Homo sapiens: one gene and its partners. The protein of the gene in region 1 interacts with the protein of each later gene in a pairwise test. Each region holds a gene or a part of one and is shown in the gene's direction. Other genes may lie near its edges.

Region 1 (5,142 bases):
ATGACTGGGTCTTATGGTAAGTGCTTATTAACCTTTTAAGAAATAGCCAAAGTGATTTACAAAGTGGTTGTACTAGTTTAAATTCCCGTCGGCAGTATATGAGAGTTCTAGTTCCCTCACATCCTCGAAAACACTTGGTCTAGTCATTCTTAGCCATTCTAATATGTGTAGTGGTGTCACATCGTGTGTTTTAATTTGCATTTCCCTCCTGACTAACAATGTTTAGCATCTTTTTGTGTGCCTAGCTGCCATCTGTATGTCTTCTTTTGTGAAATGTCTATTGAAATTTTTTGACCATTTTTAAGTTCAGTTGTTTACTTCTTGTTGATGTTAACTTCCTTACTAAGTTTTGAGAGTTCCCTATATATTCTGGATATGAACCTTTTCTGATTCCTGACTATTTTCTCTGAGTATGTGGTTTCTCTTTTCATTCTCAGAATGTTATATTTTAAAGAGCAGACATTATTTTTATGAAGCCCCATTTGTTCTTGAATTGTATCATGCTTTTGGTGTCATATCATAGACATGTTTGCCTAACTCAAGGCCATACAGTTTTTCTGTGTTTTTCTAGACATGTTGTGATTTTAAGTTTTAGATTTATGTCATTCATTTTAATTTTTTTGTATATGGTGTGAGATATGGCTGAAAGTCCTGTTTCTTTCTCTTTTTTTTGTACATGGGCATCCCATTGTTCTAGCATCATTTATTGAAAAAAAAAAACTATCGTTTTTCCTGCTAAATTACCTTCGTATCTTTGGTGAAAATTAGTTGTCCATATATGTATGAGTCTGTTTCTGGAATCTATTTAGTTTCATTAATCTGTTTGTCTATCTTGATATCAATGCTATATTGTCTTGATTACTATAGCTTTATAAACCTTGAAATGATATAGTATTAGTCCTTCAACTTTGTTCTTCTTTTTCATTCATTCATTTATTAATTTAGAGATAGGGTCTTGCTTTGTCACCCAGCCTAGAGTGCAGTGGCACAATCATAGCTCACTGATTAAACTCCTGGGTTCAAGTTGTCTTCCCACCTCAGCCACCTAAGTAGCGAGGACTACAGGTTCATGCCACAATGCCTGGCTAATCTTTTTTTTGTAGAGATGGGGTCTTGCTATGTTGCCCAGTCTGGTCTTGAATTCCTGGGCCTCAAGCTGTCCTCCTGCCTCAGCCTCCCAGAGTGCTGGGATTACAGGTGTGAGCCACCATGGCCAGCCTGTTCTTTTTCAAAGTTGTTTTGTCTTTTATAGATCTTTTGCAGCTCTGTATGAATTTTAAAATCAGGAAAGTTTCCTGAATTATAGTTTTTTTAATTGGTTCTGTTGTTTTAGTTTTCTTTTTCAATTACCACTATTATGTGTATGTTTGAGCTTCTTTGCCTATCTTTGTCATTTTCATATTTCTTCTTCATTTCTTTTTAATTTTTTAAAATTGTTTTCCTTTTAATCTCTATTTCTCTTAAGGCATTGTCTGTAGTCTTTACTCATTCATTTTCCTTCTTTAATCTTCATTTCAGAAATAATTAGTTTTTAAAAGTTACTAATTTCTAGATTCTATCAGCTCATTTCCAAGTTTTATTTCTAATTATGTTGTTTATGTCTTACAGAGTTTTACATGTATTTTAGTTTGTTTTAATATAGAGGTTATAGTTCCTATCTGTTTTGTGAGCACGTCTTTCTAGTATATTTTTCTTGTCTGTAGAGATTTTTTTTAATATGAACTTTTACAATTTAAAATTTTTTTAATTTCATGGGTGCACAGATGTGTATGTTTATGGGTTACATGGGATATTTTGATACACCATATAATATATAATAATCATATCAGGGTAAATGAGGTAGCCACCATCTTAAGCATTTATCCTTTGTGTTAGAAACAATCCAATTATTCTCTTTTAGTTACTTAAAAGTGTGCAATTATATTATTATTGAATATAGTCAACCCATTGTGCTAGCAAATATTAGATCTTATTCTTTTTTTCTATTTTTTTGTACCCATTGACCATCCCCTCTTCCTTTCAGCCCACCTGTTACTCTTCCCAGCCTTTGGTAACCATCCTTCTACTCTGTGTCTCCATGAGTTCAATTGTTTTGATTTTTGGATCCCACAAATAAATGAGAACATGTGATGTTTGTCTTTCTGTGCCTGGCTTATTTCACTTAAAATAATGACTTCCAGTTCCATCCATGTTGTTGCAAATGACAGGAGCTCATTCTTTTTTTATGGCTGAGTAGTACTCCATTATGTATATGTACCAGATTTTCTTTATCCATTTGTCTGTCAGTGGACACTTGGGTTGCTTCCAAATCTTGGCTTTTGTGAATAATGCTGCAGTAAACATGAGAGTGCAGATATCTCTTTAATATGCTGATTTCCTACCAAAAATATAAAAAATTGGCCAGTGTGGTGGCATGTGCCTATAATCCCAGCTACTCAGGAGGCTGAGGCAGGAGAATCGCTTGAACCTGGGAGGCAGAGGTTGCAGTGAGCCGAGATTGTGCCACTGCACTCCAGCCTGGGCGACAGAGTGAGACTCAAAAAAAAAAAGTTGTTTCAGATCCTTATACATCCTGGCTATTAACCCTCGTCAGATGGGTAGTTTACAAATATTTTCTCCCATTCTGTGGGTTGTCTCTTCACTTTGTTGTTTCCTTTGCCGTGCAGAAGCTTTTTAACTCAATGTGACCCCACCTGTCTATTTTTGCTTTGGTTGCCTGTGCTTGTGGTATATTACTCAAGAAATCTTTGCCCAATCCAATGTCCTGGAGAGTTTCCCCAATTTTTTTGTAGTACTTTCATAGTTTGAGGGCTTAGATTTAAGTCTTGATTCATTTTTATTTGATTTTTGTATATGGTGAGAGATAGGGGTCTAGTTCCATTCTTCTGCATATGGATATCCCAGCACCATTCATTGAAGAGACTTTTCTTTCCCCAATGTATGTTCTTGGCACCTTTGTCAATAATGAGTTCACTGTCAGTATGTGGATTTGTTTCTGGGTTTTCTGTTCTGTTCCATTGGTCTATGTGTCTGTTTTGGTGGCAGTAGTATGCTGTTTTAGTTAATATAGCTCTGCAATATAATTTGAAGTCAGTTAATGTGATTCCTCCAGTTTTATTCTTTTTGCTCAGGATAGCTTTGGCTATTCTGGGTCTTTTGTGCTTTAAATTTTAGGATTATTTTGTCTATTTCTGTGAAGAATGTCATTGGTATTTTGCTAGGCATTTGCATTGAATCTGTAGATTGCTTTGAGTAATATAGATATTTTAACAATATTGATTGTTTCAATCTATGAACATGGAATATCTTTTCATTTTTTTGTGGCCTCTTCAATTTCTGTCATCAGTATTTTATAATTTTCATTGTAGAGATGTTTTACTTCATTGGTTCAGTTAATTCCTAGGTGTTTAATTTTCTTTGTGGCTATTGTAAATGGGATTACTGTTTTGATTTCTTTTTCAGATTGTCCTTGTTGGTTTATAGAAATGCTACTGATTTTTCTAAGCTGATTTTGTGTCTTGCAGCTTTACTGAATTTGTTTACCAGTTCAAATAGCTTTTTGGTGGAGTCTTCAGGTTTTTCCAAATATAAGATCATGTCACCTGCAAACAAGGATAATTTGATTTCAAATTTTGATGGCCTTTTTTTCCTTTCTCATGTCTAACTGCTAGCTAGAGCAATTCCAGTCCTTTTTCATCTCTAGCTAGAGCAATTCTAGTCCTAACTACAGCAATTCCAGTCCTTTTTCATCTCTGATTTTATTTGAATCTTTTTTCCTTTCTTCCTTCATAGTCTGGCTAAAGGTTTGTCAATTTTTTATCCTTGTTCTGTTCTAGATCTTAGAGGAAAGGCTTTCAGTTTTTCCCGATTCAGTGTGATACTGCCTGTGGGTCTGTCATACATGGCTTTTATTATGTGGAGGTATGTTCCTTTTATACCTAGTTTTTTTAGGGTTTTTTTTTTAAATCATGAAGGAATGTTGAATTTTATCAAGTGCTTTTTCAGTATCAGTTGAAACGATCATATGGTTTTTGTCTTTCAGTCTGTTGATAATGATGTATCACATTGATTGATTTGCATATGTTGAATCATCCTTTCATCCCTGGGATAAATCCCACTTGTTGATGATGAATGATCTTTTTAATGTGTTGTTGAATTTGGTTTGCTAGTATTTTGTTGAAGATTTTTGCATCAATATTAATCAGGGATATTGGCCTGTAGGTTTTTCTCTCTCTCTCTCTTTTTTTTTTTTTTTTTTGATATGTCTTTGTCTGGTTTTGGTATCAGGGTAATACTGGCCTCATAGAATGAGTTTGGATGTATTCCCTCCTCTTCCATTCTTCAGAATAGTTTGAGTAGGGTTGGTGTTAATTCTTTAAATGTTTGGTAGAATTCAGCAGTGAAGCCATGGAGTCCGAGGCTTTTCTTTGCTGGAGGACTTTTTATTATAGCTTCAATGTTGTTAGTTGTTATTGGTCTGTTCAGGTTTTGGATTTCTTTATGGTTCAATCTTAGTAGGTTGTTTGTGTCTAGGAATTTATCCATTTCTTCTAGATTTTCTAGTTTATTGGTATATAGTTGCTCCTAGTAGGCTCTAATGATCCTTTGTATTTCTGCAGTATTGGTTGTAATGTCTCCTTTTTCATCTCTGATTTTGAATCTTTTCTCTTTTTTCTTCATTAGTCTGGCTAAGGGTTTATCAGTTTTCTACATCTTTTCAAAAAACCAACTTTTTGTTTTATTGTTCTTATGTCTTATTTGTTTCAATTTCATTATTTCTGCTGTAATCTTTATTATTTCTTCTACTTTCAGTTTGGTTTGCTCTGCTTTTCTAGTTCTAGTTCATTAGGTTGTTTATTTGAAGTTTTTCTTTTCATGTAGGCACTTAAAGCTATAAATTTCTCTCAGTACTGTTTTCACTGTATCCCATAGGTTTTGGTATGTTCTGTTTCCATTATCATTTGTTTCAAGACATTTTTCAGTTTCCTTCTTAATCTCTTCATTGACCCACTGATGATTCAGGAGCCTATTGATTAATTTTCATATGTTTGAATAGTTTCCAAAATTCCTCCTGTTAACTGATTTCTAGTTTTATTCCATTGTGGTCAGAGAAGATACTTTATATTATTCCAGTTTGTTTTT
Region 2 (5,000 bases), on another chromosome or scaffold:
AGACATCTTGCCTACTTTTCTTTATTAGCTTTCTCCTCATCCATTTCTTTTATACCTTTCCTTTTTGGGGAGTTGTTATGCCATGATTTTTGGTATTTATGTAAAAGGATTATTACTAATTCTATTTCTCTATGTTTATTCTAGTTAAGGAAATGTTGAGGGCAAGCCACCAAATTACCTAGGCTGAGGTTAGAGAGATTGGCCAGCAAAAACTGTGGGAAGATGAACTTTGTCATTATGATTTCATTATCACATGATTATAGAAGGCTGTCTTAGTGCAAAAAACATACTTACATTTCAGACATATCCAAAGGGAATACTCACATTTTGTTAAGAAGTTGAACTATGACTGGAGTAAACCATGTATTCCCTTATCTTTTACTTTTTTTCTGTGACATTTATGTCTCATGTAATTTGCATTACTCTGGTGGATTGTTCTAGTACTGTATTGGGCTTCTTCGTTAATAGATTATTTCATATACTATAATTGTAAATATTTTGATACAAATGTTTATAACTCTAGGGATATAAAAACAGATTCTGATTCCCTTCATTGTGTGAATGTTTTTTTCTAAAAAAAATGTGGAGAAATATGGATAATTATGACATTTATCCCTCATTAAGCTGCCTATCAGTTTGATTTGGACAACTTGACATTTATTTGAGACATTAAGCTACTTTCTGGTAATATATTAGGCATTTCTGCAATAGCTCTTTCAGGTAACTGAATATTATTAAGCATAGTTTTATCTTGCTTTGATTAAACCTCTTAGGCAAAAAATGGAACTTCATAAGCTAATACATTAGAAAGGGGTTATGATTATAAATCAGAAATGCTTGTGACATTAAGAAATGAGGCACTTGTGAAATTTCTTTGAAATAGCCAGCTCCTCTAATGTGTCTTCAAAATATAAAGTGATTCACAAAGGCATGCATCACACCTATTTGTAGCAGCCCATTCATTACATAAACCAGGGCATACCTGTGTGGGCTCTGTGAGTGAAGGGAGGCTTCACTACTTTCTGTGAGCAGTAAGGACTGGTATCTTTCTGTGAGCAATAAGGACTGGATAAAGACTGCATATCCTTGTGTCGTGTCAGCACCAATACAATAAGGAGGGTTTTAATGTGAAGCAGGCAATCTTCCAGCCCCTTCTGGTCTTGGATGAAATAGTTGCACAGAGTATTGCACCAAAAATACACAATGGAGGCTGAAAAGTTCAACATATTTTAAGTCAATTAATCAAATTGCATTGATTCTTGATGCTTTCTTAGAGGCCTACATGATTTCTTAGATTGCTCTGATAAACTATCATAAGGGGTCCACCTCCCCTCATTTAGCTCCCCCAGGGATTTCTTTTCCCCCATGTCATACACCCAGTCCTAAATCAACCCCCAAGGCTATCCTTCCATCCCTTCTGCAGAGGGAACTTTTGTCAGACTCTGCAACAAACTCCTAGCTCTATCCAGAGTGTCCTCTGCTGCTAAGATTGGTATCTTTCTCCTCAAAAGCCTGGATGGTGAATGGGGGTGCATTAGTCAGAATTCTCCAGAGAAACAGAAAAAATAAGATTCGCGTGTGTGTGCAAACATATATATAAATAAATAAAAATATATTTATTTTAAGGAATTGACTCACATGATTTTGAAGGCAGGCAAGCCCAAAGTCTGCAAGGGGTGGGCCAGCAGAGAGCTGGTGCTACAGTGCGGGTCTGAAAGTTGCCAGAGTCCCTTTTATAGAGAAGCTTAAAAAATATTTGTTGAATTAAATGTCTTAGGTAGAGACAAATTGAATTAAAGTGGTTAAGTAAATACTCTTAGGTGAAATTTGTGCAAATTATGAGTATAAAGAGGGTGAGCTACAGAACTCTCCATGACCACTCAAGAATGGGACCCAAAGGCAAATGATAACTTATTCATTCATCAAGGGATAAACTTGAGTTATCAAATGGTTAATAGATAAAGATCCCACTCTGCCTTGGATTTAGCCATCGCAGTCCCTGTGTAAAACCCCACCGGCTTTCAGGCATGGAAAAAAATTTCACAAAGGCCTTGAAAGAAGGCATATGAAGACCAAAAGGATATTGAGCAGGGTTCCATACTTGAATAAAGGAAGAAACTCCCTTCAATGTTTACTAAGAAATAGTTAGAATATAGCATATCCTGTATAGATGAAATGTCCTAGCGAAAATGTTTAAATGTATTTAAAGAAGAGCTAGATTTTGTGGGGGGAGAGAAGGGAATAGGATAGGCTGGTGGGAGGAAGAATGAAAAGAAGAAAACTTGTTGGAAATTTTGGAGTAGATTGTGAGGAGGGGTGACTCACTTTAAAGATGTATCATTTGGAGGTAGACACGATTTTCAGAGCACAAAACAGATAAGGAAAGATGTATGCTGATTGTGTGGAGCCCAAGGGAAGGCGGGGTTTTGGAGTCTTACGTGGCTTTGTTTCTGAAAGGGAGACATGTGAAGCCTACTCCTGAGGCGGGAGGCTGGGGACATGACCATCAAGACCTATAATTGATAAACAACTAGGGGCTGGGTGCTGCACCTACATGCTGGGGAAATAGAAAATGAAGCAGACATGTGTCCCATCTTCTTCCAGCTTTCAGTCTAGCTTGGAAATAAATCTCATACCTAGAGAAAATGGAGGATCTGTGGGATGTAGATGAGGTGGGAGCATGAATGCCTAGGGAGGGAAGAAGAAAGATTTTCAGTTCTTCAGCTTTTCCTCATGACCCTATCTCATGCCATGAGCAATTGTCTGGCATCTCCTGTGGGTTGGACCACTGCTGCATTTCTTACTTGCCAACATCACTTTGTCCCAAATGCCATTCCTTTGTTCCAGGGCCTCCTTGTCTTCCATCTGGGGAACTGGAGGTGAGAAGCATTATAATAGCCTCTCTGCCTTTATCTACAATCTCTCCAACCTGTGCTTTATGCTGATGTCAGGATGGGCGTTGATGGATGCTTCTATCACTGTCGGGGCAGGGAGGGCCAGAACACTAGCATAAGATGTCAATATGTCTATCCATATGTCAGGTCCATACTCAACTCAAGCTTCTGGTTAACTGCTGATCTATTGGCAACTCCAGTTCCCAATAAGTTCCTCATCTCCTTCTGAGACCACCTCAGTGTGGACTTAATCGTCCACATCACTGTCAGCATTTTGGTTAAAACCATTCAACAAGTCTCCAGGAAGCTCCAAACTTTCCTTCATCTTCCTGTCTTCTTCTGAGCCCTCCAAACTCTTCCAACCTCTACCCGTTACCCAGTTCCAAAGGTGCTTCCACACTTTCAAGTATCTTTATAGCAATGCCCCACTCCTGGTACCAAATTCCTGTATTAGTCTGTTTTCACACTGCTATGAAGACATACTTGAGACTCGGTAATTTATATAGAAAAGAGGTTTAATTGACAAAAAAGCTAACAAAGTGAGCCCTGATTCAAAAATGACTGTCTACACTTGGCACATGAGGGACTTTATGATATTAAGAGATTAATTAAACAACAGTGGATGGGGAGGAAGAACAGACTTTTGAGCTCTTCCCAATATAGGAATGTGTTAGTTCTAAAAATTTTCTTAAGTTGTTTGCTTGGAACTCAGAGTATATTTTTCCATACGAAAAATTCAGAACTATTTTATTTATGATATGGGCTAAAAAGACTTCTGTAATCTAGCTTGGAAACTTAATAATCATTAAACTTATTTTCAATGAGATACGACTGTTTAAATTCTGAAACCTGGAACCCTCTGTTGCCCTGCAAATGCTTTAGGAAAAGAAGAGTGTGTCTGATGGAGGATAAGATGGAAAGTGAATATGGATCCATATTCAGAAGACACGGTTGCATTACAGCAAAGGAACAGCTTTTTGCTGGCCATGCTAAGCATTTGACATTGATGTGGGAGAACATGGCATTCAGTATGACTCTGTCTGGATATATATAGTTTTGTAAATTGGGTGTTCTTAAGTTGAGACTGCATGTTTCATTCCAAAATCAATCTTAGTTTTCCCACTTGCATTAGCATATTGTATTAGTCCGTCTTCACACTGCTATAAAGACATACCCGAGACTGGGTAATTTATAAAGAAAAGAGGTTTAATTGACTCACAGTTCTGCATGGCTGGGGAGGCTTCAGGAAACTTATAATCATGGCAAAAGGGGAAGAGGTACGTCTTACATGGTGACAGGGGAGAGAGAGCATGCAAGAGAAGGGAAAACTGCATTATAAAACCATAAATTTTATAGAACCCACTATCCCAAGAACAGCATGAGGGAACCACCCTCATGATCCAATCACCTTCCACGGGGTCCCTCCCTCAACACATGGGGATTTGGGGGATTACAATTCAAGATGAGATTTGGGTGGGGGAACAGCCAAACCATATCATGTATCAATGCTTAAATTCAGTTTATCTGGGAATTTTGAATGATTCCAACTCCTTAGTATAGACATTTACAGGCTTTTGGGCATTATGAAATCGTACTATTTTTAATTTGATTTCACCACTTCTCCTCTGTCTTATAAAAAGCTGACATTGAGCACATGTGTCCTTATAATTTTTAAGGTGAATCAAAAGTAAACCTGTTTTGAGTATTTGGATATAGTTTTGCAGTAGCTCTTGAGGTTACTAGGGTTGCAAAATCAAGTTTGAGAATTATAGTGCTAGATTTATGGGTGAAATGGATTACACTAATTAGTCTGACATTTAGTCACCTTGTTTTAAAAAAGCAAGGCAATATTCTGGCAGTGATATTGAACTCCAGATTTCTTTCCATATACTCACTTATGAAATTTACTTCAACATGGCATACCAGAACTGACTACTAATTTCTTTCCCCAGAATAATTTAAATTCTTTACGTCTCATTGTATTTAGTACTTGTCAGAGCTCCTGGAAGGACAGATAAAAGATAAATGCAGACAATTATTCATTGCTCAGCTTAGGTTCATTTCAGCCGGTCATTCTCTTGACCTTACCCTGGACGTCCTTATTCC
Region 3 (4,733 bases), on another chromosome or scaffold:
TCAGTGGTCATTTGCAGCTGCACAGGGGACTGACTGCAGGGTGGGTGCCCTCAACTTCAGGCCCCTGGGGGAGGGGGAGGCCCCAGGGTTTGGGGTCGCACAGCCCTCACTGTGGAAGGCAGCCATGCTGTGAGGGGGCATCAGGACGGAGATCCCCCAGGTGGGAGGGACAGCAGGGAGCTGGTCTGGCGGAGGGGGAGCCAGGACTTTGGTTTCCCATTTGGGGTGTCAGTTGTGTAAATGAGGCAGGAGCATGCTGGGAGCCCCGTCCTTGCGGCAAGGAGGGCTCAGAAGGGACTGTGCTGGGCACCTGGAGTTGGAGCCTTGTAGCCTGGAGGGCAGGAGCTTCCCTGGGTCCGTGGGAGGCTGGTGGCCCCAGGTGGGCTGCAGGGACAGTGGGGATGCAAGGGCCTGGACCCCACAGGGGAGGCAGTGGTGCTGCCGGGGTGGCTGAGAAAGGCCTGGGAGCTGGGCTGTGCTCGGGGGACCCACCCTGTTGCTGCACCTTTTGTGGGGGGGCGGGGCGTGCCCCGTGTCCTGCTGACGCCTGTGTCCTGCTGACGCCCCTCTCCGCAGAAGTCGGCCAGAGCAGCATGTGGATCTCCACTGATGCCGCCGCCTCGGTGCTGGAGCCTCTGAAGGTGGTGTGGGCCAAGTGCAGCGGCTACCCCTCCTACCCGGCACTGGTGAGTACGGCTCTCGTGGCGCCTGCGGGTCCAGAGGAGGCTCACACAGCTGCGGGGCGGGGGTGGTCCGAGGAGGCTCACGGCGGTGGTCCAAGGAGGTTCCACAGCTGGCGGGGGGGCGGGGTTGGTCAGAGGAGGTTCACACAGCTGGAAGGGGCAGGGGTGGTTCGGCGAGGGGGGCGTGGGGGTGGTCTGAGGAGGCTCACACAGCTGGGGTGGGGAGGCGGGGGGGGGTGCCAGTGACAGGTGGGGTTGTTTATGGGTGTGAGCCTCACAATGACCTCAGCGGGTCCTTCTCGTGCAGATCATCGACCCCAAGATGCCCCGTGTGCCTGGCCACCACAACGGCGTCACCATCCCGGCCCCACCCCTGGACGTGCTGAAGATTGGGGAGCACATGCAGACCAAGTCTGATGAGAAGCTGTTCCTCGTTCTCTTTTTTGATAATAAGAGAAGTTGGTGAGTTGAGAGGCCTTAGACTCCGGGGACCGGCTGGGGTGGTTGGGGGCCGTGGGCTCGGTGACCTGAGTGTCCCTGTGGTGAGCAGCGTCTTTGTCTGCTGGGCCCTGGCACAGCTAAAGTCGGAGGTGAGTGCTCCGCTGTTTGCCTGGTGGAGAAGGGCACTGCCCAGCCCCCTCGCCGGGACTGTGGGACGGGCACTGAGCACCGGGTCTGTCTCTGCCCGATGGCTTCCTCTCCCTCTCGCCTGAGCCCCATTGGTCTGGACTGTCTCTTCCCTACTCCTTACCCATGTGTCCGCTCCAGTGTTGGGGGTCCCTCTGCTGTGCTCCCGGACCCCTGTACTGCAGGACATGGCCCCTGCCCGGGCCTGGCCTCTGGCCCTGTTCTTAGAGCCTTCTGTCCCAGCATCATCCAGCTCTGCTCAGACATCCACCCCATCACAGGAGGCTCCCCCTGTGCCCTGAGCTGCTTTTCCCCAGAGCGTCTGGGACCCTCATGTGCCAGGGTTTAGACCCCAAGATCCCTCTGTGCAGGACACGCTGGCAGCACATGCCTCTGGGAGGAGCTGTGGCCCCGGCTGTGCCCTGCGCACGTGGCCCGGGCAGGTGCTTCCTGGTTCCCCGTGGAGCTGGCTGCACTTGGGACCTGGCGCAGGGGCTCGGGGCCACCTGCCTATGGTGTGCCTGGAGCAGGACTGGCAGCACAGGCATCCCTACCGTCTTTCTCTTCCTTGCCTCGACCTCTGCCTCTTTGGCCACGTGGCCACTGCTTCTTGTCAGGCCTTGAGCGAGGCCCACACCTTGTCCATCCGAGGGCCCCTTTGATGGGGTCTCCCCAACCACCGGCCTCTGCTCCAGGGCCCACCCTGACTCTGGGCTTGGTGTGTGCATGTCTTGTCACTAAGCAGGCACTGGGAAACGTTTTGGAGGTGGAGGAGGAGGTGATGGTTTTTATGCCTTACTTAGCTCCCCGTATCCCCAAGTCGGGGAGGGGAAGGGAGGGGTGCACTCCTGGCCTCGGGCCTGTCCCTGCACGGGGCCCAGCTGTCTTGGTGGTGCTGAGCAGGGCCCCTTTCTATCGGAGGGCAGTGAATTTGTTAGATGATTACATGGAGCCTGCTGAAATACCATGTGCAAGCAATGATTTTCCGCTTGTTTTTCCTTTTAAAAAGGCAGTGGCTTCCTAAGTCCAAAATGGTTCCCCTTGGTATTGACGAAACTATAGACAAGTTAAAGATGATGGAAGGGAGGAATTCCAGCATCCGGAAGGCCGTGCGGATCGCTTTTGACCGCGCCATGAACCACCTGAGCCGCGTCCACGGGGAGCCGACCAGCGACCTCAGTGACATTGACTGACGGCCCGGCCGCCAGCGCGGGTCTTGTCCATAGTGTTGATAAGCTGTACATGTTTGTATATTGTTCAAAACTTAACTTATTCTGATTTTTAGTTATAGCTCTTTAATTCTTTTTCCCCGGGGAGGGGGGAGGTTTTATTTCCAAGTTTTCTAGGAACCCATCTCCGTCTGGGCGCTGTGAGTGGGGTGGGCACGTCCGGGCAGCCCAGTGCGTCTGTCGCACGTCCCCAGGCCGTGCTGCTGGCGTCACTTTCTTTGATATGTAGCTTTTTCTTAAAGACTTTTGAATGTTTAATAATTTTGTAAATCATGCTCTTTACACAGAGTACCACTTATTTAATAAGACGGGATGTAAATTTACAATGACAAATGTGTATTTTAAGAAAGAAAATGACATTATTTTGAATGGTACTTTGTGGAAAGAGGGGAGAATAAAGTTATGCTGTGTACATCACTTGCAGATCACCAAAAACACTCCGCTGCCCGTGACCGCCGGTGGGTGTGTCCCCGCTCCCGTCGTCCCGCCCACCTCAAACCCCGCAGGTGTGCCTCCCAGCGGATTATTTATTGTAGAAAGTGTATTCATTTGCTTTATAATGAAAAATACATTTGCAAAGGTATATTGATATGCATTTTTATACAGGCACATAAAAATTCAACTTGGCTTGGGAGCAGAATGCATTGCATTGTATAAATGACTCTGGCCTGTGTGTACTTTGATTTTATAACTTGTAATCTTTTGTTTACAATGAGGGGCTTTCTGTAACTTGTTTTAATTTAGAACACTTTGGTAGCAATAGAAACTTTGGATACATTTTTGTATGGTACCTGTGATGTATATAGAATTAGTACTTTATTTTTATTTTTAAGAGGTAAAGCATTATGTTGGGGAAAGTAGGGTGGGTTTCCAAATTTGCATTTTTTATATTAAAAATAAAGTCAAGATTTGGACGGTGTGGCCATTTTATTCCTACAGCCCTAGACGGCTAGGTGAGCCCCAAGGACGGGTGGGGTGCTGGCTGCAGGGGGCGGGGACACGCCTTTATCTTGAAAACTGTCATGGGATGGCATTATTTGTTATTTCACCTGATCATATTTTTATTTTAAAACTTCAGTTACATAAAAGTTTTAAATGCTTTTTTTAAGCCTACACCGTTTGTAACATCTCCATAGAAACTTGGAAATCAAGTCTTCCTTAGATAGTTGCTGTCCTGCATCTGGCAGGTGCTTCCTATCTGTCGTGGCTCTCCTTCCCACAGCCAGCCCCGCCCGGCAGGCCCCTCCCCACCACGAGCAGCTGGTGGCCCCCAGGATCACTCACCGCCCACGCAGAAAGGAAGCCCACGCAGAAAGGAAGCGGGTGCAGGAGCCAGGTGGGGACAGGCCGTGGAGCACTCAGGGCTACCACCGAGAAGCCCAGCTAATGGCGGGTGCAGTTTGCACCCCTTCTCTGCCACCCACAGCCTGATCGTGCTGTCGATGAGAGGAATCTGCTCTAAGGGTCTGAGCGGAGGGAGATGCCGAAGCTTTGAGCTTTTTGTTTCTGGCTTAACCTTGGTGGATTTTCACCCTCTGGGCATTACCTCTTGTCCAGGGGAGGGGCTGGGGGAGTGCCTGGAGCTGTAGGGACAGAGGGCTGAGTGGGGGGGACTGCTTGGGCTGACCACATAATATTCTGCTGCGTATTAATTTTTTTTTGAGACAGTCTTTCTCTGTTGCCCAGGCTGGAGTGTAATGGCTTGATAGCTCACTGCCACCTCCGCCTCCTGGGTTCAAGTGATTCTCCTGCTTCAGCTTCCGGAGTAGCTGGGACTGCAGGTGCCCGCCACCATGGCTGGCTAATTTTTGTATTTTTATTAGCAATGGGGTTTTGCTATGTTGCCCAGGCCGGTCCCGAACTCCTGCCCTCAAGTGATACACCTGCCTCGGCCTCCCAAAGTGCTGGGATTAGAGGCTTGAGCCACTGCGCCTGGCCAGCTGCATATTGTTAATTAGACATAAAATGCAAAATAAGATGATATAAACACAAAGGTGTGAAATAAGATGGACACCTGCTGAGCGCGCCTGTCCTGAAGCATCGCCCCTCTGCAAAAGCAGGGGTCAGCATGTGTTCTCCGGTCCTTGCTCTTACAGAGGAGTGAGCTGCCTATGCGTCTTCCAGCCACTTCCTGGGCTGCTCAGAGGCCTCTCACGGGTGTTCTGGGTTGCTGCCACTTGCAGGGGTGCTGAGG
Region 4 (5,142 bases), about 82 Mb from region 1:
GTGGCCCATTGGACAGTGAGCAGCAGTGTGGTCGAGGTTCCTCACTAGTTTACATCCAATGGTTACTGCTGATTTGTTTCTTCCTAATGAAAACATTGGGCATTTCCAGATCTTTTTAAAAGGTGAGGAAGTGGAAATTAAATGAAGAGGGCCTGAGGCCCTTTTTAATTAACTCTGAAAGTCTAAATTACAAGCCACAGTACCACGTTTGGGTTCTCTCTCTCTCTCTCTCTCTCTCTCTCTCTCTGTGTGTGTGTGCGCGCATGTATAAGTACCAATTATCATTACTTTCAAATAATAATAGCTAGTACTTACACAAATATAAGGTTGAGGGAAAAAATGTCTGCAACTCTTTAACACAAGTAGAGATTTTTAATAACATGTAAGGAAGGTAGACATTTCAAAGGAATGTTAAGCTCAATAGTAAGCTTGTAAAATATTACTTTCCTGGTATCCTTTTTATGGTTTCAGTCACTGAGGAAATAATTTCAATAAGAGGTGTAAAAGCTGCAGCAGAGTATTTAAAGTTTCAGATGCTGCCATACTTTATTTATTTTTATGTATTTATTTATTTTTTTTTTTGAGACAGAGTCTCACTCTGTTGCCAAGGCTGGAGAGCAGTGGCATGATCTCGGCTCACTGCAACCTCTGCCTCCCGGGTTCAAGAGAGTCTCCTGCCTCAGCCTCCTGAGTAGCTGGGATTACAGGTGTGTGCCACCATGCCTGGCTAATTTTTGTATTTTTAGTAGAGATGGGGTTTCACCATGCTGGCCAGGCTGGTCTTAAACTCCTGACCTCGTGATCCGCCTGCCCCGGCTTCCCAATGTGCTGGGATTACAGGCACGAGCCACTGCGCCTGGCCGCCATACTTTATTTTTAAGCAAGGTTCACAAACCATCAAATATTACCTAATCTTGTAATCCATTAAACATGCATTTATTTGTTCATTCAGAACACAGAGTGTCTGCCATATAGTAGGCCCAATGCAAAGTAGTGAGGATACAGAAATGAAAGACACTCCTTTGCCAGTGTCTTGCACTGAATCCCTCTGAAGAGCAGGTGTTACAAGGGACTAGGGCTTCCTAGTACAAGAGAAAGAAACAAAAGCAGTTAGGCCATTGGCTGCATTTGATTGCTTCTGGTAACTTTCTGGAGGCTGATAGCTCTTAGATTAGAACACCAAGGCAGAAAAAGTGGATGAGAAGCCTTTTCCGTTGAATCTCTGACATGGTATTTGCACAGTGTGACTGATGGGATGTGTCAGAGAAATTAGCATTTTGCTAGAATGAAGGCAGTGAAGGTTAAATGTTCCAAAGTCTTTAAGCTTAAATTGTTCGTTACATAGTATTGTACAGGCTCACGCCTGTAATCTCAGCACTTTGGGAGGCCGAGGCGGGCGGATCACGAGGTCAGGAGATGGAGACTATGCTGGCTAACACGTTGAAACCCCATCTCTACTAAAAATACAAAAAATTATCCGGGCATGGTGGCGGGCGCCTGTAGTCCCAGCTACTCAGGAGGCTGAGGCAGGAGAATGGCGTGAACCCGGGAGGTGGAGCTTGCAGTGAGCCGAGATAGTGCCATTGCACACCAGCCTGGGTGACAGAGCGAGACTCCGTCTCAAAAAAAAAAAAATTGCTTTGTGAAAGCAAGCCAGAGCCTAAGAAAATTGTCCACTGCCTGCCATGTTGAAGATTCCACTAGTTTCCTCCAGCCATGCAGATAAAGGAATGTCAGCCAGACCCAGAGACCAGTTAGGTGTTTGTTCAGTCCCAATAAATGATGCCACCGTAGCCTCAGAGCTCAATTATTTTGACATTCCAACCTTCTCTTTCTGTTTCCTTCTTAGCTCCCTTGCCTCAGCTCCTATGATAGCTACTGCAGCAATCAAGTAGCCGCCAAAGCTCTGCTGGACCACAAAAAGCAAGATCACCGAGTCCAGGATTTCCTACAGCGATGTTTAGAATCCCCCTTTAGCCGCAAACTAGATCTCTGGAATTTCCTCGATATTCCAAGAAGCCGCCTGGTAAAATACCCTCTGCTTCTCCGAGAAATCTTGAGGCACACACCAAATGATAATCCAGATCAGCAGCACTTGGAAGAAGCTGTAAGTTTGTCTGTTTCCTTCTCTCTCTTCTTGTTATTTCCACCATAATGGCTGGTGGATTGGGTCAGTGGGTGAATGGAAGAGTCCCTGGGTACTTAGTACTCAGGAATCTTGGGTTCCAGGCCTGGCACTGCCATCAACCATGTTTTGATTTTGCAAGTCACTTCTCATCTTTCTGCCTCAGTTTCCTAAACTGTAAAATGCAGTGCTTACATGAAACACGCTGTAAGGTCCCTTAGTAAAATTCTTAATTTTATACAGGTGACTCTAATCTGGTGTTACAGTTGCTGTCTGTGAGGGACAAGATCTTTGTGTATATTTTAAATTTTGTTTAGTTAGAAAATAGTAAGTTGCCTTTTAGCCTAGCCCCAAAACTCATTTGTGAAGTGGACATCCATTTAAAATCTAGCTCCATTTAGCCCCCGATTACAGTGGCTTGCCTTGTCAAACCTCCTGCTCACTAGTGGGATCCTCACTCAGCAAATGTTTGTTGAGTGTGGGCCAGGCACGATGGCTCATGCCTGTAATCCCAGCACTTTGGGAGGCCGAGGTGGGCAGATCACTTGAAGCCAGGAGTTCAAGACCAGCCTGGCCAAAAAAGCAAAACCCTGTCTCTACTAAAAATACAAAAAAAAAAAATTAGCTGGGCGAGGTGGCATATGCCTATAATCCCAGCTACTCAGGAAGGTGAGGCACAAGAATCGCTTGAGCCTGGGAGGTGGAGGTTGCAGTGAGCTGAGATCACGCCACTGCAACTCCAGCCTGGGCAACAGAGTGAGACTCTTGTCTCAAAAAAAAAAAAAAAAAGGTTTATTGAGTGTGGGCTGGGTAATCTGGGAAATATATATTTTTCCCTAGCAGCAATAGAAGACGAGGAAAAATGGGGTGCACATCATGAGAATATTGTAAACTGTGAGCATTCCACCCAGAGAGCACCGTTCTGGTTGAGGTACTCTGCATGGTAGAGATGGCAGATGGCAGGCCACGGGGAGCGGGTGGCCTGAGCAAAGGTATAAGGAAATGACAGGACAGGTCGTGCCTGGGGAATATCATGGATCAGTTGGCCTGGGGTTAGGGGTCCTCTGAGAAAGCAGCAGGAGAGAAGACAGAGGATGTGGGTTCAGATCTGGTTATAGAGGTTTTTAAATATCAATTTAAGAGATTTTTTCCTTTGTCATGCAATTAATTGAAGTTTTTTTTTTGTTTGTTGGTTGGTTTCTAAGTAGCTGGGATTCAGGATTCAAATCCCAGCTCCATCATTTACAAGCTCTGTAACCTTGGACACATACTCTTGGTAGAACAAGGGACTGAGGAGGAAGAGACTGGTGATAGGGATGCAAGTTGGGAGGATGCTGTCCAGGTGTGAAAACCTGATCAAGGAGGTGGCAGTGGGGATAGAGGCTAGCAGACCATTCAAAGGGCTCATTTTCTGATTTAATCTGGGACAATAATAGAAGGAGGATATGCATAGGTAATTTGAAAATCAGAAACCTTGAACCTGCTGAGCAAACTGCCTATTTCCTCCCAGATAGGGGTTTAATAATAAGTAGTAGTAACAACAATCATGGTAATAATTGCTGGCATTGAGTATCTAGTAAATCAACTTTATGTAATTTGCCTCATAGGTTATGTATCTCATTTAACCGTCACAACAGCCTAGGAGATAGCTGTTCTTATTAGGACCATTTTCCAGATGAGGCTTAGAGGGGTTAAATAGCTTGCCCAGGTCCACAGCCAGCAAGTGATGCAGTTGATGTTCAAACCCTGTCAGTGTAGACTCCAAATCCTGTGCCCTTCAACTTCTTTATGATTCTATACCTTGATGCAGAAAGCCTGCCCACTACTTTGAGTTTCTGTTGCCTTTGTAATTGTGGAGAGCTGTCTGGTCACCAGCCTCACTGGTGCAGAACTGGGCTGGGTGCCTCCAAGTAGGATAGAAAAGAAGAATAAAGGACCCTCTTCTGATTCATGAGGTATTCAATGTATCTGGCAGGCCCAACACAGAGATCAGGCCCCCAGTCCAGCACAGATGGGGGACGCAGTCGCTGGGGTTGAGGCCCATCTCACTTCATCATGTCTGTTTTTATTACTGGGAAGAGTGCGATAGAGTTGCCTCCTTTCCATATTTCATCCCAGCAAGTGTGTGGTCTGCAGGAATAAAAACAACAGGGAGCATGAGCTACTCAAAGTCATGACTTTTTTGAAGCATGGGAGCCTGTTCTGAGTTACTGTAAAGATTTCTTTTTAATATGGAGCATGAAAGAATACTGTTCTGTTTTTTTAAAAAATACCCAGTGAGCTAAAGTTTGAATTTAAAAACAGATAAGAATATGATTGTGTGTAATTCAAAATGATGTGCCAGTAACCAGTTTTCCTAGTGCATAAAGTATGAAGCTGTTTTCAAAAGTTCACTCTGCATCTAGTTATTCAGGCAGATCTGTGCATGAAACATGGTATACCTGCATTTGAAAATGTCTGCAAAGCAAGTCTTCCAAATGCCTACTTACACAGTATACGCACAGGATTTTTTTTTTCCCTTTACAGAATCCTCATAGCATTCATTACCCCACATGAACAGAATTATTTAGCCCTGTACTCTTGGGTGCATTATGAATGTTTGATAAACATAAAACATAAAACAAGCACCAATATAGCTTGACAAATATCCCATGAATAAATTTCCCATCAATGAAAAGGGAAAAATCAGAGAGCGCTAAGTAAATTGCTTCCGTTCCAAGAGAGTTGATTGCATTCATACCTATGATTAGATCTAAAAAGAGGTCTTGCCTTTAATGCAGTGCCTAAATTACCACATCTTTATTAGAATTTCATAATAATGCTTTGAGGGTTGATAAAAATTTTTCTCAAAAGAGAACTTCTTAAAATAGGAGTTTGGATATTCAGATATTCCAGAGAACTTGGTTGTTTAGTGTTTTAAATTCTAAGAATTTTTCGGCCAGAAAATGATCCTGCAGAGCATCCCTTCCCCCCACCTCACCACTATTTCTCAACTCCTAAAAAAAAAAAAAATCACT

Evidence for each region.
Region 2: the proteins of CEP70 (region 1) and EMP1 interact in binary tests that used the Homo sapiens proteins (3 or more experiments, as listed by UniProt).
Region 3: the proteins of CEP70 (region 1) and BRD1 interact in binary tests that used the Homo sapiens proteins (3 or more experiments, as listed by UniProt).
Region 4: the proteins of CEP70 (region 1) and ARHGEF3 interact in binary tests that used the Homo sapiens proteins (3 or more experiments, as listed by UniProt).

What each region holds. Positions count from the first base shown.
Region 1 is NC_000003.12:138,583,578-138,588,719, reverse strand, and holds part of CEP70 (centrosomal protein of 70 kDa), read left to right. Parts: intron 1-5,142.
Region 2 is NC_000012.12:13,216,222-13,221,221, forward strand, and holds the end of EMP1 (epithelial membrane protein 1), read left to right. Parts: 3' UTR 1-3,720; downstream 3,721-5,000.
Region 3 is NC_000022.11:49,772,003-49,776,735, reverse strand, and holds the end of BRD1 (bromodomain-containing protein 1), read left to right. Parts: intron 1-576; coding exon 577-686; intron 687-990; coding exon 991-1,145; intron 1,146-2,319; coding exon 2,320-2,503; 3' UTR 2,504-3,453; downstream 3,454-4,733. UniProt on the Homo sapiens protein: Scaffold subunit of various histone acetyltransferase (HAT) complexes, such as the MOZ/MORF and HBO1 complexes, that acts as a regulator of hematopoiesis.
Region 4 is NC_000003.12:56,742,170-56,747,311, reverse strand, and holds part of ARHGEF3 (rho guanine nucleotide exchange factor 3), read left to right. Parts: intron 1-1,849; coding exon 1,850-2,107; intron 2,108-5,142. UniProt on the Homo sapiens protein: Acts as a guanine nucleotide exchange factor (GEF) for RhoA and RhoB GTPases.